Homo sapiens: one gene and its partners. The protein of the gene in region 2 interacts with the protein of the main gene of each other region in a pairwise test. Each region holds a gene or a part of one and is shown on either strand. Other genes may lie near its edges. The genes, in order: RNF115, UBE2W, SNURF, RNF152, MKRN1, AKR1C3 and LRSAM1.

Region 1 (2,864 bases), on a different chromosome or scaffold from region 2:
CTTTACAGTCATGAGGGCCTATCACGCACGCATCTCAGGACAGGTGAGACTTCATTATATCAGGTATTTTGTTGCTATTCTAAGTTATAAGGCAGTAATACAAACTTTCTTTCCACAGCTTTGTAAGCCTTGTGCCAAAAGAAACTTTTAAAACAGCTACAGCAAGATGAGTCTGACTATGGCTTAGTATCTTTCTCATTACAATAGGCACAGAGAAGAATGCAACAGGGCACAGGGGAAGAGATGCTAAATATACCAAGAATCTGTGGAAATATAAGCTGGGGCAAATCAGTGTAATCCTTGACTTTGCTCCTCACCATCAGGGCAAACTTGCCTTCTTCCCTCCTAAGCTCCAGTAAATAAACAGAACAGCTTTCACCAAAGTGGGTAGTATAGTCCTCAAATATCGGATAAATATATGCGTTTTTGTACCCCAGAAAAACTTTTCCTCCCTCTTCATCAACATAGTAAAATAAGTCAAACAAAATGAGAACACCAAATTTTGGGGGAATAAATTTTTATTTAACACTGCAAAGGAAAGAGAGAGAAAACAAGCAAAGATAGGTAGGACAGAAAGGAAGACAGCCAGATCCAGTGATTGACTTGGCATGAAAATGAGAAAATGCAGACAGACCTCAACATTCAACAACATCCATACAGCACTGCTGGAGGAAGAGGAAGATTTGTGCAGACCAAGAGCACCACAGACTACAACTGCCCAGCTTCATCTAAATACTTGTTAACCTCTTTGGTCATTTCTCTTTTTAAATAAATGCCCATAGCAGTATTTGGAGTCTTTTCTTTTCTCCTAAATCCACAAACTCTCTTCTTTCTCTTTGGACAGATGACCTCTTGTCATAGTTAAGCAGAGAGTGGGCAGGATATTCCTGATAGGAGGAACTACATGAATAAAGGGGTAAGAGCACAGAAATTTAGCTACAGCTCCATGGTGAGCCATTAAAAGGAAAGAGACACTTTACCTGTGCTCCTTGGCAAGGACCTGCCAAATGTGGGAGCTAAGGTTTGTGGGAACGGAAAGAGATATGGCTGAAGTAGATGAGTAAGACTCTTATTAGTGATAGTCTTGAACCTCAAACTAAGGATTTTAGACTGTATCCCATGGAGATAAAAGGACTAGCCATGGAGGCAAAAAGACCTGGATTCAAATTCTGGCTCTGCAACATACCAGCTATTTGTCATTGGGCAAATGAATTTTTTTTTTTTTTTTTTGAGACGGAGTCTCACTCTGTTGCCCAGGCTGGAGTGCAGTGGCATGATCTCAGCTCACTGCAACCTCCACCTCCCGGGTTCAAGCAATTCTCCTGCCTCAGTCTCCCAAGTAGCTGGGATTACAGGCATGCACCACCATGCCTGGCTAATTTTTGTGTTTTTGGTAGAGACGGGGTTTCACCATGTTGGCCAGGCTGGTCTCAAACTCCTGACCTCAAGTGATCCACCCGCCTCAGCCTCCCAAAGTGCTGGGATTACAGGCGTGAGCCACCTCACCCAGTGCAAATGAGGTTTTGAGATGCTATTTCTGTTTACCTATCTGTAAAAAGGGATATTGCCTATTGTATCTTCTCTTTCCACAGAATTGTTCTGAGAATCAAAATGAGAGTCTGGATTTGGGACCTAGAGCCATTTGAGTTCTGACTCCAAAGTCTCCAAAGCTTTCTCCACTACATCACATTCATCTTAATCTTTCTCTACCTGTTTTAAATAGTTAGTTCTGTGTTTCTAACTAAATAATAAACTCACATAGGTAGAGATGTCTTTTGTTTTTACTATTCAAATAATCTTCTGGAGCTACTCAACATTATACAATCACTGGAAGTCTCAGAAGATATATCCAACTATAGGAAAAGTTTCAGCCATTGTACTATACTAATTATAGTCCACATATAAAAATCTGTGACACATAATCACAGAAAGGAAACATCACTGCCCAAGTTTATGAAGACATTTAAGAGCATCAGATTACTAGCTCTGACTCAAACTAAGCGGAATATATACAAAGCAATCCCACTTTGTACATACCAACTGAGTCTTGCTTCTAAAGAGTTTATTTACTCTGCTTATCTCGAGACTTGGTTAAACAGAAACTTAAAATACTTGTGTCTTGGCTTTCAAAATGTGTTGATACAATTGCCTTCAAATAAGCCTACAAATTTTCATGCATAATAGGTGGTTTTCTGGACACGCATCTTAGCCCCAATCTGTATGAGTGATTCACAAACACGGGTTTTGAACCTGTGAGGCCATGAGGTTATCAGAAGGAATCTATATACCATAATCTTCAGCCTGAATAAATATCTTTCAAATATTTGTATATATTTCAATTGGATGTAGATTCTGGTGTGACTAATAAATTAACTTAAAAGCATTACTGAAATCATAGCAGCTTTTTGTTATGTATTCTTTAATCAAAAATACTAATAATATGGCTATCAAGTTGTTGGAAGGGAATCTAATAATTTGGGGGTTTTTGTTTTGAGACAGGGTCTCTCTCTGTTGCCCTGGAGTGCAGTGGCACAATCTTGGCTCACTACAACCTCTGCCTCCTTGGTTCAAACGATTCTCCCTCCTCAGCCTCCCAAGTAGCTGGGACTACAGGTGCATGCCACCACACCTGGCTAATTTTTGTATTTTTAGTAGACATGGTGTTTTATTGTGCTGCCCAGGCTGGTCTCAAACTCCTGACCTCAAGTGATCTGCCTGCCTCAGCCTTCCAAAATGCTGAGATTACAGGCATGAGCCACAATGCCCAGCCAAGAATCTAATAATTTTTGGATCTTGAAAATTGTATTTCTTATTAGAAAAAGTAAAGAATCACAGGCTTACATCCTATGATCACAGATCTAAGT
Region 2 (3,500 bases):
AATGTGCTAGGTTTTTTACGTATGTAGGGTCATTTATCTTTCCAACAACACTATGAGGTGATTATCTTCTGTTTTATTATTGAGGTAGTTAAAACTGGAGAGATAACATAACTTGTTCACACAATGAGTTAAGATTAACTATAACTGCGACTTCAGTATAACTTCAGTTATAACTGTCTAATTTCACTATAAAATATTGTCTCTTGGGTCTGTGGTCGTATCTTTTATTACCATGTATGGTACTCAGCGTGCATTCTTAAAATGAATAGCCATGCTCTTAAGAGTCTGTATACTGTAGCTGATTTCTTTTAGAGAATAGGTACATTTATTATTTTACATAATCCAAGGTTCATAGTATGCGTGGTGATGACTAGAATCCCAACACTGTATTTTCTATCTTCCTTTTGTTTTCTTGTATTTTAAATACAAGAAAGTTTAATAACTGAAAAGTTCAAGAGAATTGCCCAGGTGTACAAGAATTATAAGTGACAGAGCTATAATTAGGAACACATTGTTAATGACTTCAATTCACTTTTGCTTCTAATGCTGCCCTGTTATCTTTGCTGTCATTATCCCTTATTCTTCCCATCTTAAAGAAAATAACAAGAATAGTATATAAACTGTAAATAACACATTTATGTTTATGATTGTTATATATGAAAACAAAGGCTTGCATAGATGGCATAGAAATGGGCTTTATTAAACAATTGAAACATAGTGAGAGATAAAGGAAAGTCACCACAAAGCCTTGCTTAATCATCAGAGTAAGTGGACTGATGTCAATTTAGCTCCCCTTGCCCTGTTAATCTTCTCTAGGATGTTGATGAAAAAAATAAGTCTGACAGCTACGGTTCTCTGTGGTCATTGTCTATACGTATTTCTCCATGGCTTCCACCAGTAATAATCAGAGGCAGTTGCTTTGTTTGATGTTATGTATAGAATACGTAATATCAGCATTGTAGAAATGGTACTTTGAAAAAATAAGGTAGTATAAATCAATTAGGAGGAGCACAGGCTTTGGTGTCAGTGCACCTTAGTTTGAGGTCTGTTTGTTTGTTTATTTTGAGACAGTCTTGCCCTGTAGCCCAGGCTGGAGTGCAGTGGCATGATCTTGGCTCACTGCAACCTCTGCCTCCCGGGTTCAAGCGATTCTCCTGCCTCAGCCTCCTGAGTAGCTGGGATTACAGGTGCACACCACCATGCCCGGCTAATTTTTGTATTTTTAGTAGAGACCGGTTTCACCATGTTGGTCAGGCTGGTCTTAAACTCCTGACCTCGTGATCTGCCTGTCTTGGCCTCCCAAAGTTCTGGGATTACAGGTGTGAGCCACCACACCCGGCCTTGGGTTTTATTTAGTTTGCTTTTTTAGACCTGGCTCTGTCTTTTGCTAGCTGTCTGACCTTGATCTGGTTATTTCACCGCTGAGTGTCAGAGAAGGGGATAGGTCATGAGAATTAACAGTAAGAGAGTTATTGGGAGGCTGGCATGTGCTGTTACACATAACCAACTCTTGTCCTAGTGCTTAGTGTATAGGAAGTACTTGGTGTCCTCTTTTCTCCTCCTTACCCCAGTCTCTATTATCTTAAGTTTTTAATTTGCCTTTTCTATTCTAGGTGGATTGTAGACATGGAAGGTGCACCAGGTACCTTATATGAAGGGGAAAAATTTCAACTTCTATTTAAATTTAGTAGTCGATATCCTTTTGACTCTCCTCAGGTAATTGCCTTGCTTTAAATTTTTTTTTTTGTATTTTTAGATAGCTAAATGCCAGAGATGTTTGACTCAGTAAAAACATATAAATCAGTTATACGTATGTAGATGGATTTGTTATTTCATTATCTTATTTGTCATATAATCAAGATATGAACATTACACTTTATTGGGATTAGGGCTTTACTGCATTTTGCTTCTAAAATTGTTTCATTTGTTGCTTATCCATAAATGCTAACAGAAAAGGGAATAGAAATCTAACCAGGCCTCTAGGCCAGGGGTCCCCAACCCCCATGCTGTGGACTAGTACTGGTCCATGGCCTGTTAGGAGTCGGGCCACACAGGAGGTGAGCAGCATTACTGCCTGAGCTCTGCCTCCTGTCAGATCAGCGATGGCATTAGATTCTCATAGGAGTACGAGCCTTATTGTGAACTGCACATGTGAGGGATCTAGATAGCACGCTCTTTATGAGAATCTAATGCCTGATGATCTGAGATGGAACAGTTCCATCCCAAAACCATCATCCAATCCCCAACCCCATCCATGGAAAAATTGTCTTCCATCACACCGGTCCCTTGTGTCAAAAAGATTGGGGACCACTGCTCTAGGCCATCGGAGAAGTTGACATTTTGGAATAACTGGAGGCACTTCTCCTAGGTCAGATGGTAGAATCACATGGTGAAGAGAAAAGTTCTCTGTTGGAAGGAGTACTATGATTTTGCATTGACATGCTGTCCTTGCAGCCTTTTAGTACAGGAAGGGCAGAGTACATCATCAGATGTTAAATATCTAAACATCAGCACAAAGTCTGATTATTATAATTTGATGCCCAGTGAGTTTAGTTAATAGCTTAATACTTAGACAAGGGATAATGGTGGTAGAGAAATGTTTTTTGAGAGCTATTTAACTATAGTAAATGATTAATCAGGTTAGAGAAAGGAAGACTCTAGGATGACTTCCAGGTTTCTGGCTTGGTAAGATAAGTAAATGAGTTACTATAATTACTTATTCTTCAGAGAATTATAACAAAGCACTTCATTTTTAAAATTTGAGGCTTGTGAGATCCGTTGGCTAAAATGGTAAGACATGATGCCAGCTCTCTCTAGTATTGCTAGCAAATGAGCTATTCTGGAAAATACAACCAAATACCTGAAATATTTCCCAGATACTGAAAATTTTGCTTGTTGGGTGCTGAAATGTACTATTTGGAGGAAAATCATATTTCATTGTCACTTTAAACAATATACCAAACACAGCTTAATCTTTTCTTAGTTATGTAAGAGAAGAGATAAAGTCAGTTATTGTATCATGCTATAAGTAAAGAGATAATTGTTTTAAAGCATAGATTTAAATGGATACTGACTCCTTAAGTTCTAAAATTTTCATATGAGCAGAAAACTACCAAGACTTTTAGGACTTATTTTTATCATTTTCATAAAAGTTAAAGTGAAAGGGTATGTGCTATTGTGACCTCTAGATGTCTACAATAAGCATTTGTAGACTATAATAAAAAGAACAAACATCTTCTCTCCAGAAGATTGTCATCACTTTTGTTGCTTTCTGGCTGGCCAGCATCATTTCTGACTGTAAATGTGTGGAGACAACAGGATCTCAGTCTGTTTTCATCATCAGCCTATTTGTCTACCTTCAACTAAGTTCAATGATGGTATGGGAAGGAAGAATATTTCACACCAATTCAAAAGCTTTTGACTAGGGAGATATTGGGGGAAGGCTTACTCTGGGAGCTTACAGATTTTTCACCAGAGGAAAATAATATTTCTGTAAGCAT
Region 3 (2,167 bases), on a different chromosome or scaffold from region 2:
CTTTCAAATTATCCTGTGTGAACAATCCTTTCTCCCCAGGGGTGAGGGGAGGGAGATGCTGCTAAAGCATTTGCAGGGAGATGTTTAGGCCGTCCTTCATATTGATCCTCCTGACAAGTCACTACCTGAAATATAGAACTTCCAGGGCTATTTAAGGGCTCTTAAAATATGTAAACCAATCATCTACTGGTAAGCAGGGAATTCCAGACAAAAGCCCTCGACATACCCCTATGAATCAGTAACCTGGCTGTGAAATCTGATGATGAGAAGGAAGACATACAGGAAATGACAGCTTGCCTTGAGGTGAGGAGCTGGGGGATCACCAACAATGCTGCCCTTGTTGGCATGTAAGGATTTGGAAATTGGACTTTTTTCTATGGTTTTTCAGTAACATTTTAAAATTGCTTCTGTATAATAAAGAATTTAACTGGCCTTTGCTCCTGGTTCCTGGGAAGTAACCTATACATCCTATACATCCTTGGAATTTACCCAGTGAAAGAAATGTGTTTGTTACTCAAGGTGGGTCCCTAGGATCACACCTGAGTTCTTGGTAATGAGATGTCTCAAGATGGTGACTAACCAGGCCACAAAAGATCAAACAAAGACTAAAGGGTTGGGGTTTTGAGCAAGCCCTCCTGGGAGGGCAGGAGAGTTGCTGACTGAATTCAGTGACATGTCCAGTGATTCAATCTTGTCAACATAATGAATCCCCAACAAAAATCATCGACATCTGGAGTTCTGGTGAGCTTCCTGATTGGTGATATACGCTAATGTGCAGGTAATGCATCCTGAGGACAGGGAAGATTTGTGTGGGACCTGCCCAGATTTTGCTCTATGCATCTGTTCATTTGTATCCTTTATAAAAAAAACTAGTAAGTATAGCACTTTCTTGAGATCTACTAGTCATTTATAAAACCTTAGTCAATTATAAAGTCTGAGAAAATAGTAGGACCTCAGAATCTATAGACTGTTGGTCGGAAGTGTGGGTGCCCTGCCAACCCTGGAGCTTGGAGTTGGTGTCTGCATTGAGGGGAATGTTCTGGAGGGCATCTAGACAACTGTGAAATTTGCACTAACTCCAAGTAGTCAGAATTGCACTGCACATACCTCTAAATCTTCACACTCTAATTCATAGTCTACTTTATACTCTAATTCATAGTCTAATCACTGAATAAATAAATCTTAATTTGGGCATTCTCCACTCTAACCTCTGTTTACAAATGACAACTAAGTTTCTGATTATTATTCATAAAGGTCTAAAAAGTGTTTCAGTAAAAAAAAATATATATAATGTTATCTTGAAACGTAAGATAATTCTCTATTGCAATGTCCCCCTCAGATCTAACCTGTAACCCAATAGAAGATTAAAGACTGAGAAAATGAGGCAGCCTACACAGAATTTAATTCATAGAGTGCAGAATATTAATTTGAAAAGACATGTGAAGCTTAGCATAAAATATATTAAGACAACTCTCCAGCTCCAATTTCCAATTTCCCTTCGAACTCACGATACATCATCCAGCCCCAAAGAATAAGAGCTAATTTAGTGACAAATACACTGAAAGACAGAATAAAAAATTTAAAATAAATCAGTGAACTTTTTATTTTTACTTTATTTTGAGATGGAGTCTTGCTATGTCACCCAGGCACAGCCAATGGCACCATCTCGGCTCACTGCAACCTTTGCCTCCCAGGTTCAAGCGATTCTTCCACCTCAGCCTCCTGAGTAGCTGGGATTACAGGTGCACACTACCACACCCGGCTGATTTTTTTATTTTTCTAGAGATGAGGTTTCACCATGTTGGCCAGGCTGGTCTTGAACTCCTGACCTCAGGTGATCTGCCCACCTTCGCCTCCCAAAGTGCTGGGATTACAGGCGTGAGCCACCGCACCCAGCCTCCTTCATTGATCTTTAGGGCTAATAACCACACAACTCCTCCAGGAAGACTGCCTCCCAATACTACTTATGATTTGGTAGGAAGTAGGAGATGAATGGGTAAATATTGAACACTTCTAGTATAACATTCTAAGTATACCAATCCTGAGAATCCTAAACACATGGACAATGAGGCAGTGTTAACCAATCCTGCTTACCCATTCCATAATCCAATTACTCTCAAAATGAAAACGCACAAGGGGGAAAAATTATACTATTTCCCTAACTCTA
Region 4 (3,500 bases), on a different chromosome or scaffold from region 2:
GGCTTTTTGTTACATGATTTTGCCCCCATTGTAGGCTAATTGCAGGTCACAACTGCTACATCAGCCAGCCACAGGCCCCCTTGGAAGGAACTGTGCCCCCAACCCTCTCCTGCACTAAGCAGGTCCAGGGTGAATGATAACTGGAAGGGTCCCATTCACTGGAACTCTTGGGAAATGTGGCTTGATGACAAGACATCCTGGGACATCTCTTCAATTCACCTCCCTTTATGCAAACAAGCTTGAGTGAATTTCTATTCTTTGCAATTAAACAGAAAGAAAAAGACACTTCAATCGTAGGTGATAATACAAGACAATCTATGACAAGTGGCCTTTGTAGAATGAATGAATGAATGTTGAATGAAATGAGAGATGGAGGCAATTTTGCCAGAGAACTTTGGATTATAAAGAATTTCTAAAGGCTAATGTGATCAAGTTAAATTTTTCAGAAGAGTTGAGAGCTGAACTGAGGCTTCGATGATAGGATAGAGGCAGAGGAAGGAAGAGGACATTTTAGGCCACAGAATGTGCTAGAATAAGAAAGAGGCAATGAAAAACATTTTGGGCAACAGTGGATTAACCATCCCAGCTAATGTTCAGTTTTAAAGTCAGGCGGAGCAAAAGTCGAGGTTGGAAAGGAAGTTTGGGGTCAACCTGGGGAAAACTTGAAAAGCAAAACTGAAGAATATGAGCTTCCTCCCACAAGGGCAACTAAAAGTTATTAAGTGAGGGGATGAAGGATTAATTGGCCTAATGGTCTAAGAGTGACAGCATTTTCCAAACTGGAGTGGGGTGGGAAAGCCAGAAAGTGAGCAAGACCATTGTCATAGCCCAGAGAGAAACAAGGTTCTTGACTAAGATGCGGCAGTGGCAACTGTCACTAAGTGAATCTGTCAAGGAGCAGAAACAGCAATAGTAAGAAGAATGCTCCTGGCTAGGTGCGGTGGCTCACGCCTGTAATTCCAGCATTTTGGGAGCCCAAGGCGGGTGGATCACGAGGTCAGGAGTTCAAGACCAGCCTGGCCAACATGATGAAACCCTGTCTCTACTAAAAATAGAAAAAATTATCCCAGTAATCCCAGCTACTCGAGAGGCTGAGGCAGGAGAATAGTTTGAACCCAGGAGGCAGAGGTTACAGTGAGCTGAGATCATGCCCCACTGCACTCCAGCCTGGGTGACAGAGTGAGACTCCATCTCAAAAAAAAAAAAAAAAAAAAGAATGCTCCCTATTTCTACAGTATCTGTCAAAGCTTTTACCAAAATCTCTTCAATTCTTGTCAAACCTCAGTGAGGAGTGCACCAAGTGTGATTATCTGGATGTCTAGATCAGAACTGAGCCGGGAAAGTTACACTTCCTTGGTAGGTGGGAATGCGATAGTGGCAGGGGAGAGGAGGTTGTAGAAAGAGAAAATACAAGCACAGAACACAGCATTTGGAGATTCTACTTCCTCATAACTTTGCTCCCACCAGCAGCACATCTTCATTTGCTCAGCCCCTCCTTTGCATGAAAGGCAGGTAACCAGGAAGTCTATGTGATGTTTGAGTAAGTTTCATCATGCAGGATGTTTGCAATGAGTTTTATTTATGCAGGCATTAGTATATCAAGGGGTAAATAAGGCATCCTCTCCACTCCTAGGCGATCACAAGCAGCCCCCTCACAACTCCACGAAGAACGTAGTCCAGGCCTTAGCAGCCAAACGTGATCTAGGCCAAGAAATCATGGACATCAAGAACCACCCAAAGGAGATGCAGGTCACAGATACACTATTTGAGGTCTCCCTCTTTAAATCCTACAATGACAGTGAGTCAATTAGAAATTGAAAATCCCTAAGCATGTAACAAGCACAGACGGTTCCCTACTTACAACTGTTTGACCTATGACCTTTGATTTTTTGACTTTACAATGGTGTGAAAACAATACACATTCAGTAGAAACCGTACTTTGAGTGCCTATACGACCAATCTGTTTTTCACTTTCAATACAGTATTCAATAAACTACATGAGATATTTGATGCTTTAATACAAAATAGGCTTCTTGTTACATGATTTTGCCCCCATTGTAGGCTAATGCGCATTTCTGGGCACAGTTAAGGCAGACAAGGCTGAGCTATGATGTCAGTAGGTGTATTAAATGCATTTTCCACTTACAATATTTTTAACTTATGAGGGGTTTATGAGGATATAACCCCACTGTAAATTAAGAAGCATCTCTACCAACTTTATCCCAATTGTGATTTCAATCATGGAGTCAGACTGCTGGATCACACAGTGTAACTCTCGAAGCCATGGGAAAAGAAGCAGGAAAACCAACACCTTCTTCCTTTCCGGTTTCCATGACGTCACAATGGGCAGTGCCAGAAACCACTTTCATGCCACAAGAGTCCTCTACCTGACCAGCCGACTTGGGTATGAAATTAAAGTGGTAGGGACCCAGAGGCCAGAGAAAATATAGAAATGCATTTTGGGGCTTCCCAAATATAGTTCAAGACTAGTCCCTCGGGGCTTTCATTTTCCTTCTCCCTCAGTCTGTGCCTGGCCCTCAGCCCAACCCCAGGCACCCTGAATGGGTTTTTGGATGGTCTATATCTGGTTCTTCCTGCTGGTCTCCAAGCTGCTCATCTCCCAATTCAGAAACGCTTTGGGTGCTACATCTTATCACTTGAATGAAGCCGGGTGGTCTCAACCTCCCTAGGTTGATACTGATATCCCCTCAGTCACTGTGACTTGGAGACTAACATAGTTTACCACACCACTTCCTTATTTGGAGAGCTATCTTTATAAAAATGACTTTGCCAAGGTGATTACTGAACCAAAAGCAATATTATTTTGTTAAATTCTACACTTATGCTTAAGGTATTTATCAAATCTTTAAAATGGCTCACCCGTGCATGCCGTTATCACAATGTGAACAAAGATATATGAGTGAACAGCTCTTCCCAAAGCAAAATCTCTGCAAGCCACCAACTGCTGAATCCAGAGCACCTTGCAATGCCTATTCCATAGCATCCAACTCTTTTTAGGGAGAGTGAGGCAAGGAAGGCTTTAGAACTCACCACCCTCCTAGTCAATACAGTTGCTGATGGAAGCACAAATGTCCCTAAACTCTCTGGGTGTTCTACTAGTCCTGTGACCAGAAAAAGCCTCTTGCCCAAATTGCTTTTTCTAAACATCAAAGTAACAAAAGGGTGACCCAAGGTTACCCTAAACACATTCCTGCCCCCTTCAGATCTTATCTGTTGCCCTGTGGTCTCTGCTGCAGGAGGCCACCTCCTGGGTGGCCCTAGGCCCATTGCCACTCTTTTTCTACCCTGGGCGGTTCCAAACAAACTCAGGAAGCCTTAAACAAGAGGCAGATGGTGAGGAAGAGAAAGTCTGTAAGTAACACCTCTCTATTACATAATGCTAAGCTCACAACCTCCTAGAATCAGCCTTGAAAATACCTAATGGCCTTTCACTTCAGAGTAAACATGCACTTGAAATAGGCAAAGAGAGGATTATAATT
Region 5 (3,500 bases), on a different chromosome or scaffold from region 2:
GGACAGCTATGACACGGATTCAGAATAAGGTAGAACCCCACTCATGGGGCCTTACTTGTCAACAGTAGAGACCTCTTTATAACACAGTCCCTTGGCATGGACCCCAAGGACTGTGTTATAGCAAGATATATACTGGATGTTATCAGGGTGACAAAATAAACTGTCCTGGGAAGTCAAAGAAGGGTAGGAAGGAGGTAGGAGTGTATAATGCAGCACCATTCTTTTCAAAGTGAACCCAAGCTCTGTTGGGCTCTTCGCTTGAGAAAAGGCTGCAGTGCTCATACCTCATTGCCTCCTTGTATTTCAGAATGAGTTTCTGCTTCTCTTCTTTCTCCTCCACCCAGTACTCACTTGGAATGACAAAGTTAGATGTGATCCGGCATTCTGGGCAGGACCTGGGAAACAATGAACAGGCTGCAATGCAAATTCCCCTTTTACAGGCCCACTCTTCAAGGACACACCCTGGTGTGTCGCCTCCAGACTTAAAGACTTAACTGAAAGGCACGTGGGCATTTCCTGAAAGGGTTCCACATACTGTCACACAACTGACCATTTCTTTCAAGCAAGGCAACCTCCTTTATAAATCCAACTCAAGGGCTAGCCAGTTCTTTTTTTTTTTTTTTGAAAAATATAACTTAGGTAAAAAACAAAAACAAAAGAAGACATTTCACACAGACTCCTTTTTCTTTCGTTTAAATAAATTTATTTCTTGTAGCTTTGCTCTGTTTAGATTATGTGGTTTTTGTTCAGTTATGAGAACAATCTTTAAAGGATGGTGGATTGTTGGCTAGCTTAATGAATGGAATAGGAAAGTGGAAATGTAAAACGTCAGGAAACATACATTCAGAGCTAGATCAGTTTGTTCACTGAGCCTAAACTGGCTAATAATCCATTAAACACAATCTCCTCAGAAAAAGCACGAAGATTCTAACTGATACACAGGGTTTCCTCATTCAAATAAAAGTAGATAGACCAACTAACCTAGAAGCTAGCTGAAATACAAAGAAGAAATCCCCATTAGAATATCCCAGTTTCAAGATAAAATGCATGCATTTAAATGCGGTCCATCTGGTTGAAAGTTGGCACAAGTTACTAAATTCTTCCCCAAAAGAGAAAGCACAAATGAAGACTGGGGAGGAGTCTCACTTTATGATCTTGCTCTCAAATTGCTTAGCACTCCTCCACTTGCGAATGCACTTGAGACAGTAGGTGTGGTTGCAGTTGGAGAGGATCCCGAAGCGGCGCTCACTGGGGTTGGCTTTCTCATAGACCACCTCCATGCAGATCCCACACACCATGTCCTTGCTGCGCTGCACGGCAAATGAGAGCTCCATGTCCTTCTCATGGGCCTCAATGCACGACTAGAGAAGGTGGAGAGAGAACAAGTGGAATCCAGTCATTGAACCCTGAAAAACTTGAGCAACAGTTAATGATTCACAGTCAAAGAATCAAATAGTCAACTGAAAAAACAATGTTCCCAAGCTGACACGAAAATTAGCTTTGCTGACAAGTAAACACAGGTGTGGTGTTTTTTTTTTGTTTGTTTGTTTTTGCGGTGGTACTTAACAATACTAGAAAATCAAACTATGAGGACTCAACTTCGGGAACTGAAAAATTACCCAATTTTCTCTACCCCAAACCTGGAGCTCAACTACATTAAAGACGGTTTTCCATACTGTTTGTTATTTCTGGTTTCTACATGAGGTTAAGACCCTAGTTAAAACCTGTCGGAAAATAAGGGTGACAGGCACGTAAACTCTCTTATGCCTTTAAAGAAAAACAACTTCATCGAGATTTTTCAACTACTCAGCTTGATAGACTGATGCACACTTAGGTTAGGTTAGATTAGCCCACTTTGGGGCTATTATAAATAATGCTGCCAAGAACATTCATGTACCAATTTTTGTGTGGACATCATATTTTAACTTATAAAAAACATGATTATAGGAAACATAAAAATGCAGAAAACTCCCAGCACTTTGGAAGGCCAAGGTTGGGTGGATCACATGAGGCCTGGAGTTCGAGACCAGCCTGGTCAACATGGCGAAACCCCATCTCTACTAAAAATACAAAACTGAGGCAGGCGTGGTGGTGCATGCCTGTAGTCCCAGCTATTCGGGAGGCAGAGGCTGCAGTGAGCCGAGACTGCACTGCTACACTCCAGCCTGGGGGACAAAGCAAGACTCTGTCTCAAAAAAAAATAAAAATAAAAAAAATAACACTGCAGAAGAGCAATGTCATCCATAATCTCACATCATCACTAAACATGTCTTTTCCTAAACCTTTAAAAGAAAAAACATATATACATATATTCAGAGGTAGGTTCTACTACCTCAATATATAGATATAACGTATAGAGATTTATCCTGCCTAAATTCACAAAAGTACGCTGAAGATAGGGATCAAATTATGTCTACCTTATAACATGCCTCACACCCTAAAACCACATTTAAAAAGATGGAAATTTAAAAGAGATGGAAATGATTAGAAGCAAACTTTGCTCCAATAAAGTTAAAGTTTCTAACACAATGTCTTCTGAACCTACCCTGGCTCCCATACACTGCTGCTGGAAATGTAAAATCCTGCAGCCACTGTGGAAAAGTATGGCAGTTCATCAAAACGTAAAGCAGAGTTCCTATGTAACCCAGCAATTCCACTCCTAGGTAACGGAAAACATATCTTCACAGAAAAACCTATATACAAATGTTCCTAGCAGCCTTATTCATAATAGCCAAAAACTGGAAATGATCTAAGTGTCCATCAACTCATGAATGGAAAAACAAATGTGGTCTAGCCATACAAAGACAATAATTCAGCCATCAAAACTAAGAACGGCTACACGCAACCACACAAAGAACCTTGAAAACACTATGTTAAGTGAAAGAAGTGAAGTCAATCACAAAGGACCACATTACAGGATTCCATTTACATGAAATGTCCACAATAGGCCAATCCAGAGACAAAGCAGATTCGTTATTGCCAGGAGCTGGAGGAAGGCTGGAATAAAGAGTGACTGCTAATGGGTGTAGGATGATCAAATTATCCTAAAATTAGTAAAATGGTAATGGTTGCACATCTCTGTAAATATACTAAAAACCAATGAAATGTGCATTTTCAAAAGATTAAACATATTCAATGTGAATCTCAGAAACATTATTTTTTAAAAGAGGAAAAAAATGTTAGAAGTCTATAGTCTGAGTTTCTGGAAGTAGGACTTCTTTTTTTCTTTTGCCTCAACCTCCTGGGCTTGAGCGATCCTCTTGCCTCAGCCTAACAAGTAGCTGGGACTATAGACACATGCCTCCATGCCCAGTTAATTTTGTTCACTGGAAATATGACTTCTTGATAAAGCATCCAAGAAGCCCAAGAAAGGAAAACTTCCCTACTCACTGATAACCATTCAATTCATCAAATGTTTCTCTGAAATAAACCCACAATGCTGTGAAAGGGCAAATAATGATTCTCACATCTAATAACACACACATCTCCCTAAAGACTTA
Region 6 (3,500 bases), on a different chromosome or scaffold from region 2:
GCAGATATACCCACATAAACATTTGCCATAAATATTTGGCAATGTGGCAAAGTGTTAACAATTTTGAATATAAATGGTTATGTTGAATCGTGTATTATTTTTATCAAATTTTCTGAAAGTTTGAAAATTATCATAATAAAAAATTGAAGGACTAATATTAAAACTGCATTTTCTTAATGTTTCTATTTGGATATGATGGAACTGTATCATTAGGCCAAATTCACAAATTTTATACACTTCACATTTCAATGGTAGATCTTTACTCATTGGCTCTAAGTTGTATAAAAGAATAAAAAAGTGTAAATTAGCAAAAAGGTAGAGTGACTTTAATTTTGAATTTTTTTGTGACATTTGGGGGAAGTCAATTTGATCAAGGAGGCCTGGAATCATTAACAATAACTCAGGGGGAAAAAAGGACTTATCCCTAAGCTATGAAAAAACCATGCATAGAATAGATGTGTTTAAACAACTGATTGGATGACAGACCCCAAAGAGAAGTAGCAGACTAAGACATGGGCAGTGATAGGTCAGGTCTATGTTCTGCTAAAGTTCCTCAGTGTTGATTTCATCCACTGTGAACAGTTACCTCCATAAACAGGTAATTTTTCTCTTTTTTTTTGAGACGGAGTTTCACTCTTGTTGCCCAGGCTGGAGTGCAATGGCGTGACCTCGGCTCACCGCAATCTCTGCCTCCTGGGTTCAAGCGATTCTCCTGCCTCAGCCTCCCAAGTAGCTGGGATTACAGGCGTGTGCCACCAAACTCAGCTAATTTTTTGTATTTTTAGTAGAGATGGGCTTTCTCCATGTTGGTCAGGCTGGTCTCAAACTCCCAACCTCAGGTGATCCACCTGCCTTTGCCTCCCAAAGTGCTGGGATTACAGGCGTAAGCCACTGCACCCGGCCTAATTTTTCTCTTTCTGACATGGATGACTTTCATTGTCTGCAGCTAATTTTTAGTATATCTATGCCCCTGGTCAAGAATTGTTGAAACATCAAGAAGAGGCATTCAGACATCCAAATTCCATGTAAACCCCTAGCACCTCTCTTCTCTTATTCTAACTCTCTGTTCACGTACAGCTCATTTCATCTTTTCCTAGCTTCATATCTATACACCATTCCCTCCAAATCACCTTCACCCATGCACTTTCTGGTCATCTTTCATAGCTTAGAGGTAAGTCCACCTTTCCTTGAGTTCTAATTGATGATTCCAGGCCTCCCTGATCAAATGGACCTCCCCTAAATATTACACACGATTCAGCATTAAACTCATTCCAATTTTTCCCTAATACTTTTCCAAGCAGGGTACAAACAAGAAATCTTCACGCCTTTCTTGACAGAAGCTTTGCTCTCTAGATAATCTTCTACTTCACAAAGATAACTGGGACAAAACAAACAGATATTTGGCAATAGGACAGGAAGAGGGGGCATGAAGAACCGAAAGGAGAGAAGGCCAAGGGAGCTCACCTGGTTGCAGACAGGCTTGTACTTGAGTCCTGGCTTGTTGAGGATCATCTCCAGCTGCCTGCGGTTGAAGTTTGACACCCCAATGGACTTGGCCAATCCTGCATCCTTACACTTCTCCATGGCCTGTGGAGAAAGGGGTTGTGAGGAATTATTTGTGCAGTTGGCTGCAAATCACGGTAAATGCAAGACAGAACTGTGAGAGCAACAACTTTCAAAGTATGACAATGAAAATAGCTAGCAGTGATTGTCAAAAAAAGAAAAATTCAAACAGCAAATAGGGGAAGAAGATAGAGGCAGCAAGAGTAAGAATTTCTATCTCTTCCTTAGGAAACTGGATAGATTAATGCACAAGCAAGGAAAGAGATTCCTGTCCTCCTTGCCCCCAAGTCTTGTGCCCCACTCTCTAAACATTCCTTTTGTGTTTTTCCCTTCATCTCACCAAAGCTACTCTTGTAAAGTTTCTGAATTTCTAGATCTAATGGTGCATATTCCATTCTTTCCTATTGAACCTGGGAAACAGATTTTCTCTTTTTGTCATCCTTCTCTGTGTCCTCTCCGCCAAGCACTCACCTCCCAGGTGGTACAGAGATCCACTATGTCAAATATTACTTTTCCATTTTCATCTGTTGGTGAAAGTTCCTCACCTGGCTGAAATAGAAGCAGTCATTTTAATGATGTCACAAATTAATTTCTCCACTCATAGCTGTAACCCCAGGTACCTTTAAGGACACTAATCCTCCATGAGACAGGTGGTACAATGCTCCAGAAAGTGATATGTGCTAAGTGTTTTACATATGAAGGTATAAGGAATGTATTCAGGAGACAGGCTTCCTCTAATCTCTTACAAATATTATATGCATGGAAAAGGACCATTTTCTAGGTCTTAATCAAGTTTCACAGTTGACTTATGTCACTTTATTCCGCCCTTATAATTTCCTCTATTGAAGTACCTCTCTTTGATTTGGAAATACCTTGATATCCAAAAATAATGGATTGTACTCTTGTACACGGTAGGATTATCAGACCACCTGAAGAGTTGATAGTCTTTGGGCAGGACTGTGAATCACATAGGGTCAGCAGAAGTTGGGAGACCCAGAGGAGTTGTCTTATGGTGATGACCATGAGCCTTGAGCTGCTCCAAAGCCATAATCGCCACCAATGAAAAAGTTTGGGTCAACAATAATAAAAAAAAGTGTTGGAGTTTAGAGATAAGAATAGACAAATGATACATTTTTGTAGACTATTTCATATCCTTAAATGTAGCCATGTCTTTGACTTCCCATTTTACATAACTCAGTAAACTCTTTTGCATTAACTAGCCTGAGTAGTTTTCTGTAACTTTAAATCAAAAGTTATACACTACACAGTAATTCCTGGCTAAATACAGCTTCAAACTCTATTGTGAAAGAAGAGGCAGCAGAATAATAAAGCTTTGCAAGTCCACATTAAGGGTTTCTAATTTAAGAACCATGCATAGTGGCTTCCACCAAATCTGCTTCAGCTTGAAATGGGGAGAGATGGTGGAAACTCATTGTGCATCACATGTGCAGCAGTTTTATTGGGCACCACAACTGCATGAAACTCTGTGTCTGGGAACATCCCAAGAGATGGACTCAAAAGCCACAACTAAGACAGTGCCTTGAAAGAGACTATTGTAATTTCAAGTTTTTGAGGAAGAGGCTTTGAGGTTGCTGTACTCTCTTCTCTTGTAGGTGTGCATTAGAGAAGTAGGATTCAAAATTTACTCGAAAGAAAGGAAATTAGGTGTTCCACTTACGGTTCTTCTTCTGTGTGATAATCCCTACATCCTCCTAATAAAAAGCTCTGTTCAACTATCCAGATAAACAATGTTTATAATGACAGCAGAAGCGCAATTTTATGCTCATACAAACTGCATACCTTTAGAGACATTGGAGAATGAATAAGATAGAGGTCAACATAGTCCAATTGAGCTTTCTTCAGTGAGTTTTCCAAGGCTGGTCGGACCAACTCTGGTCGATGAAAAGTGGACCAAAGCTGCAGAGGTTAAAGAATGG
Region 7 (3,500 bases), on a different chromosome or scaffold from region 2:
TTCAACCAAACTCAGGTGCAAAATATTAAAAAAAAAAAAAAGAAAGAAAGCATCTGTAGTGAACACATACAGGCTTTTCTCTTGTCATTATTCCCTAAACAATATAGTATAACAGATTGGGCCTGTGCTGCTGGGCTGACACCTGTGCTGCCGGCCTCCTCTGAAGGTGCATATCACTCTCCCAAGCTCAGGTCTGCGCATAACAACCCTGGGCTCACACCTCCCACATGTTGTGAATGCCTCCCAGCCCATCCGGGGAGGAGCTCACAGTCAGCAGGGAGTCCTTCCAGATCACCTGCGCGTCCCTCCTCTTCCTTCTTGCCTGGGACCATCAGTCTCCTCGCCCTCTGCTAGCTGACTCGCCATGAGGCTGTCACTTGGCTTTCCTCCTGGCATGTAAACTCCCCAGGGACAGGGCCTGTGGCTGGTCATCTTTGTCACCCTAACCCACACACAGCCCACAGAAGTATCCAGTAAACCATACTGATCAAATCCCAGACTGACTGGTAGATTGGGCCCCTCTGACATGCAAGAGGCAGCCCAAAAGGAGCAGGCGCTCAGCTGCCGCGTGGAACCCCATGCAGAGCCCCAGCTGCCTGGGAGGAGGGCCCAGTACCTTGATGGTTGCCAGACTCAGGAGGCTGCAGGATTTGGGAAGCAGGGAAGTGAGGTGATTCGTGTGGACGATCAGCACCTGTGTGGAGAGATGTGCGGCCATGCTGGGCTGAGGAAGAGCAGCAGGCAGGGCAGGCTAAGGGCGTGGGAGCCAGCCCAGCGCCGTGCCACGCCCCACCATCTTGCTCTCCCAGACACCACCACGGGGATGCGGGTCAGTATCATGAACTCTCCCAATGGGGAATCTAATGCCCTTCCTTAAAACCTGGATCTTCAAGGGTGAAAGAGACCTTAGAGGTCTACATCTTCCTTCCATCTGAGAAGGGATCCCCCTGCAGCCATCCTGATCATAACCTTCCCAGCACCAGCGTCTTCACGTGGAAAATAGAGAATAATAAAGTGCTTGCCTCCCAGGGCTGCCATGATGTTAAATAAAAGCTCATGCGCAAAACTTCCAGGGCTGGCAGAGGGGCCAGGGCTCAGTCCAGGTCATCTACTGCTATTTTTCCTTTTCTTTTTTTTTTTTTTTGAGACCAACTCTTGCTCTGTCGCCCAAGCTGGAGTGCAGTGGTGTGATCTCAGCTCACTGCAACCTCCGCCTCCCAGGTTCAAGCAATTCTCCTGTCTCGCCCTCCCGAGTAGCTGGGACTACAGGCGCATGCCACCACACCCAGCTGATTTTTTTTTTATTTTTGGTAGAGACCGGGTTTCACCATGGTAGCCAGGATGGTCTTGATCTCCTGACCTCGTGATCTGCCCACCTCGGCCTCCCGAAGTGCTGGGATTACAGGCATGAGCCACCGCACCCGGCCAATCTACTGCATTTTTCTTAGGCATTGACTGCGGCCCAACACTTCCAGCACAGACTGGGCGTGGTGGCTCACACCTGTAATCCCAGCACTTTGGCAGGCTAAGGCAGGTGGATCACTTGAGGTCAGGAGTTCGAGACCAGCCTGGCCAACATGGCAAAACCTCATCTCTAAAAATACAAAAATTAGTTGGGCATGGTGGTGGGCGCCTATAATCCCAGCTACTCAGGAGGCTGAGGCAGGAGAATTGCTTGAACCCAGGAGGCGGAGGTTTCAGTGAGCTGAGATTGCACCACTGCACTCCAGCCTGGGTGACAGAGCAGAGCGTCCGTCTTCAAAAAAAAAAAAAAACAAACAAAACTTCCAGCGCCAAGGAGCTCACTACTCTGTTGGCAGGGAACACTTTTTTTTTTTTTTTTTTTTGCATATTCTCATTTAGATACTTCACTTAGAGCGCTTCTACCCATCTGCATTCAAAGCTGCAATGCTCTGCTGAAAAATCATTCACTCCCCTCTGAATCTCCCCTGGGTGACCAGAATAAAAGGCGTGAGTTTCTATTATTACTAACACCGGGGTTCATAAGCCTTTACTACGTGGTAGGCATGTACACTCAGTATATTTCTATCTCTATCTAGCTATCTACCACTCATTTAATTCTCACAATACCTCAGGAAGGAGAACTATGAATGTCTTCATTTCACAGGGGAAGAAACTGAGAAGTAAGAGTTTAAGGAAGTTGCCCAAGTCATGAAGCCAGTGAGGGCAGAGTTAGAATGTGACACAGGAAGGTCCAACCCCAAAGCCTACTCTCCTATCTGTGAAAACACCTGCTGCAGGCCAAGAGCATAAGAAGCAGAGAGAAAGGAGGTGTCTACGCCGGGAAGACAGCTCCTCAAAGTCCCTTGTGGGTTCAAACAAGCAGACATGCAACAAGAAAGTCTCTGAAGATGAAGCTCCATCTTACCTTCTTCTGCAGAACTTTGCATGTTGCAAAAGCTCCAAATGGAATCTAAGATAAGATAAAGAAGAGTAAGTGTCTCCCCTCCTGCCAGTTTTTAGCTTGTTCTCTGAGTGGCATTCACGTGAGGAAGAGACAGGCAGGAGGTGAACAAGGGCAAAACGCCACAGCAGGTGGCAGTGCTGAGCCCAGGGGCAAGGCTGGCAAGCAGTGGTGTTGGGGATGTGGCCAGCCCTTCCCTCGGTCAGCTGGCAGGAGACTGCCCTGCCCCACCCACCCTGTCCCCATTGTGAACCCCTTCAGGGGCTGGAGAATGCCAGGCCCTTCCAGCAATGTAGGAGTCTATGGGTACATTTTCTACCTAGACTCCTTGACTCTTGGAGACTACGTTATATTGAGGCCAAAGGATCATCTTCAATTATTTTGGACGAGAACAAAATCTAAGGAAACATCTCGTGACTAGAGCTTCTGGCCTTTCTAAAGCCCCAGTCCACCTCTGTCTTTCCTAGGGACACAAGATCCAAGAAAACGGGACAGATCCAATTCACAGCCCAACACTATCCTCAGTTTACCTCTGAGAGCTCACATTTAGAGATGTCGAGAATGTCATCTGCCCCAGCTTCTTTTGCCTAAGGATAAAAAGAATTTTTAAAAAGTATTAAGACAAAACACCTTTGCAGAGTGGACAAGCCAGGCAAAGAACATAAATGTAAGCAGCTGCAAAGGACCATAGACACTATCTGGTTCCACTGGTCCATTTGGCAGGTGAACCAATGACCCCTGCTTTCCCAGAGCTTGAGGCCCAGAGGGATGAGGAACTGAAAAGCAATGACAGTGCGCTCAGTCTACAGGGGAGAAGCACCCTTGGCAGGGGGCCTCATCTGTTGGGTCTAAGTCAAATATTTCTTCTGTGGGTGGGGGAGGCAGATGGGAAGGAGCACGGCTTGTTGGGGGCAGTGCGGAGGCCTACTCCATGGGGACCGAGGAGGAGATGGGATAGAGTTAGAGGAAACCCACTTTCCCTCACCAAACACATCTGGTACTCCAGGCGTTTCCGAGCCTCCTCACTGGGTTTCCGCTTCCGGAAGAAGAGCGGCATCCTTCCCTTTTCCCAGAG

The links.
Region 1: the proteins of UBE2W (region 2) and RNF115 interact in a two-hybrid assay, tested with the Homo sapiens proteins (one large-scale study listed by BioGRID and IntAct).
Region 3: the proteins of UBE2W (region 2) and SNURF interact in a two-hybrid assay, tested with the Homo sapiens proteins (one large-scale study listed by IntAct).
Region 4: the proteins of UBE2W (region 2) and RNF152 interact in a two-hybrid assay, tested with the Homo sapiens proteins (one large-scale study listed by BioGRID and IntAct).
Region 5: the proteins of UBE2W (region 2) and MKRN1 interact in a two-hybrid assay, tested with the Homo sapiens proteins (one large-scale study listed by BioGRID and IntAct).
Region 6: the proteins of UBE2W (region 2) and AKR1C3 interact in a two-hybrid assay, tested with the Homo sapiens proteins (one large-scale study listed by BioGRID and IntAct).
Region 7: the proteins of UBE2W (region 2) and LRSAM1 interact in a two-hybrid assay, tested with the Homo sapiens proteins (one large-scale study listed by BioGRID and IntAct).

The regions. Positions count from the first base shown.
Region 1 is NC_000001.11:145,738,368-145,741,231, forward strand, and holds the end of RNF115 (E3 ubiquitin-protein ligase RNF115), read right to left. Parts: 3' UTR 501-2,864; downstream 1-500. UniProt on the Homo sapiens protein: E3 ubiquitin-protein ligase that catalyzes the 'Lys-48'- and/or 'Lys-63'-linked polyubiquitination of various substrates and thereby plays a role in a number of signaling pathways including autophagy, innate immunity, cell proliferation and cell death.
Region 2 is NC_000008.11:73,823,363-73,826,862, reverse strand, and holds part of UBE2W (ubiquitin-conjugating enzyme E2 W), read left to right. Parts: intron 1-1,613; coding exon 1,614-1,716; intron 1,717-3,500. UniProt on the Homo sapiens protein: Accepts ubiquitin from the E1 complex and catalyzes its covalent attachment to other proteins.
Region 3 is NC_000015.10:24,964,987-24,967,153, reverse strand, and holds part of SNURF (SNURF protein), read right to left. Parts: intron 126-2,167; exon of another isoform or gene 2-125; intron 1-1.
Region 4 is NC_000018.10:61,886,508-61,890,007, forward strand, and holds part of RNF152 (E3 ubiquitin-protein ligase RNF152), read right to left. Parts: intron 1-3,500. UniProt on the Homo sapiens protein: E3 ubiquitin-protein ligase that acts as a negative regulator of mTORC1 signaling by mediating ubiquitination of RagA/RRAGA and RHEB.
Region 5 is NC_000007.14:140,455,506-140,459,005, forward strand, and holds part of MKRN1 (E3 ubiquitin-protein ligase makorin-1), read right to left. Parts: intron 1,362-3,500; coding exon 1,147-1,361; coding exon of another isoform or gene 1,143-1,146; exon of another isoform or gene 710-1,142; intron 396-709; coding exon 285-395; intron 1-284. UniProt on the Homo sapiens protein: E3 ubiquitin ligase catalyzing the covalent attachment of ubiquitin moieties onto substrate proteins. These substrates include FILIP1, p53/TP53, CDKN1A and TERT.
Region 6 is NC_000010.11:5,097,414-5,100,913, reverse strand, and holds part of AKR1C3 (aldo-keto reductase family 1 member C3), read right to left. Parts: intron 3,481-3,500; coding exon 3,364-3,480; coding exon of another isoform or gene 3,316-3,363; exon of another isoform or gene 2,738-3,315; intron 2,113-2,737; coding exon 2,035-2,112; intron 1,588-2,034; coding exon 1,465-1,587; intron 1-1,464. UniProt on the Homo sapiens protein: Cytosolic aldo-keto reductase that catalyzes the NADH and NADPH-dependent reduction of ketosteroids to hydroxysteroids.
Region 7 is NC_000009.12:127,454,510-127,458,009, reverse strand, and holds part of LRSAM1 (E3 ubiquitin-protein ligase LRSAM1), read right to left. Parts: 5' UTR 3,483-3,500; coding exon 3,411-3,482; intron 3,013-3,410; coding exon 2,956-3,012; intron 2,435-2,955; coding exon 2,390-2,434; intron 695-2,389; coding exon 617-694; intron 1-616.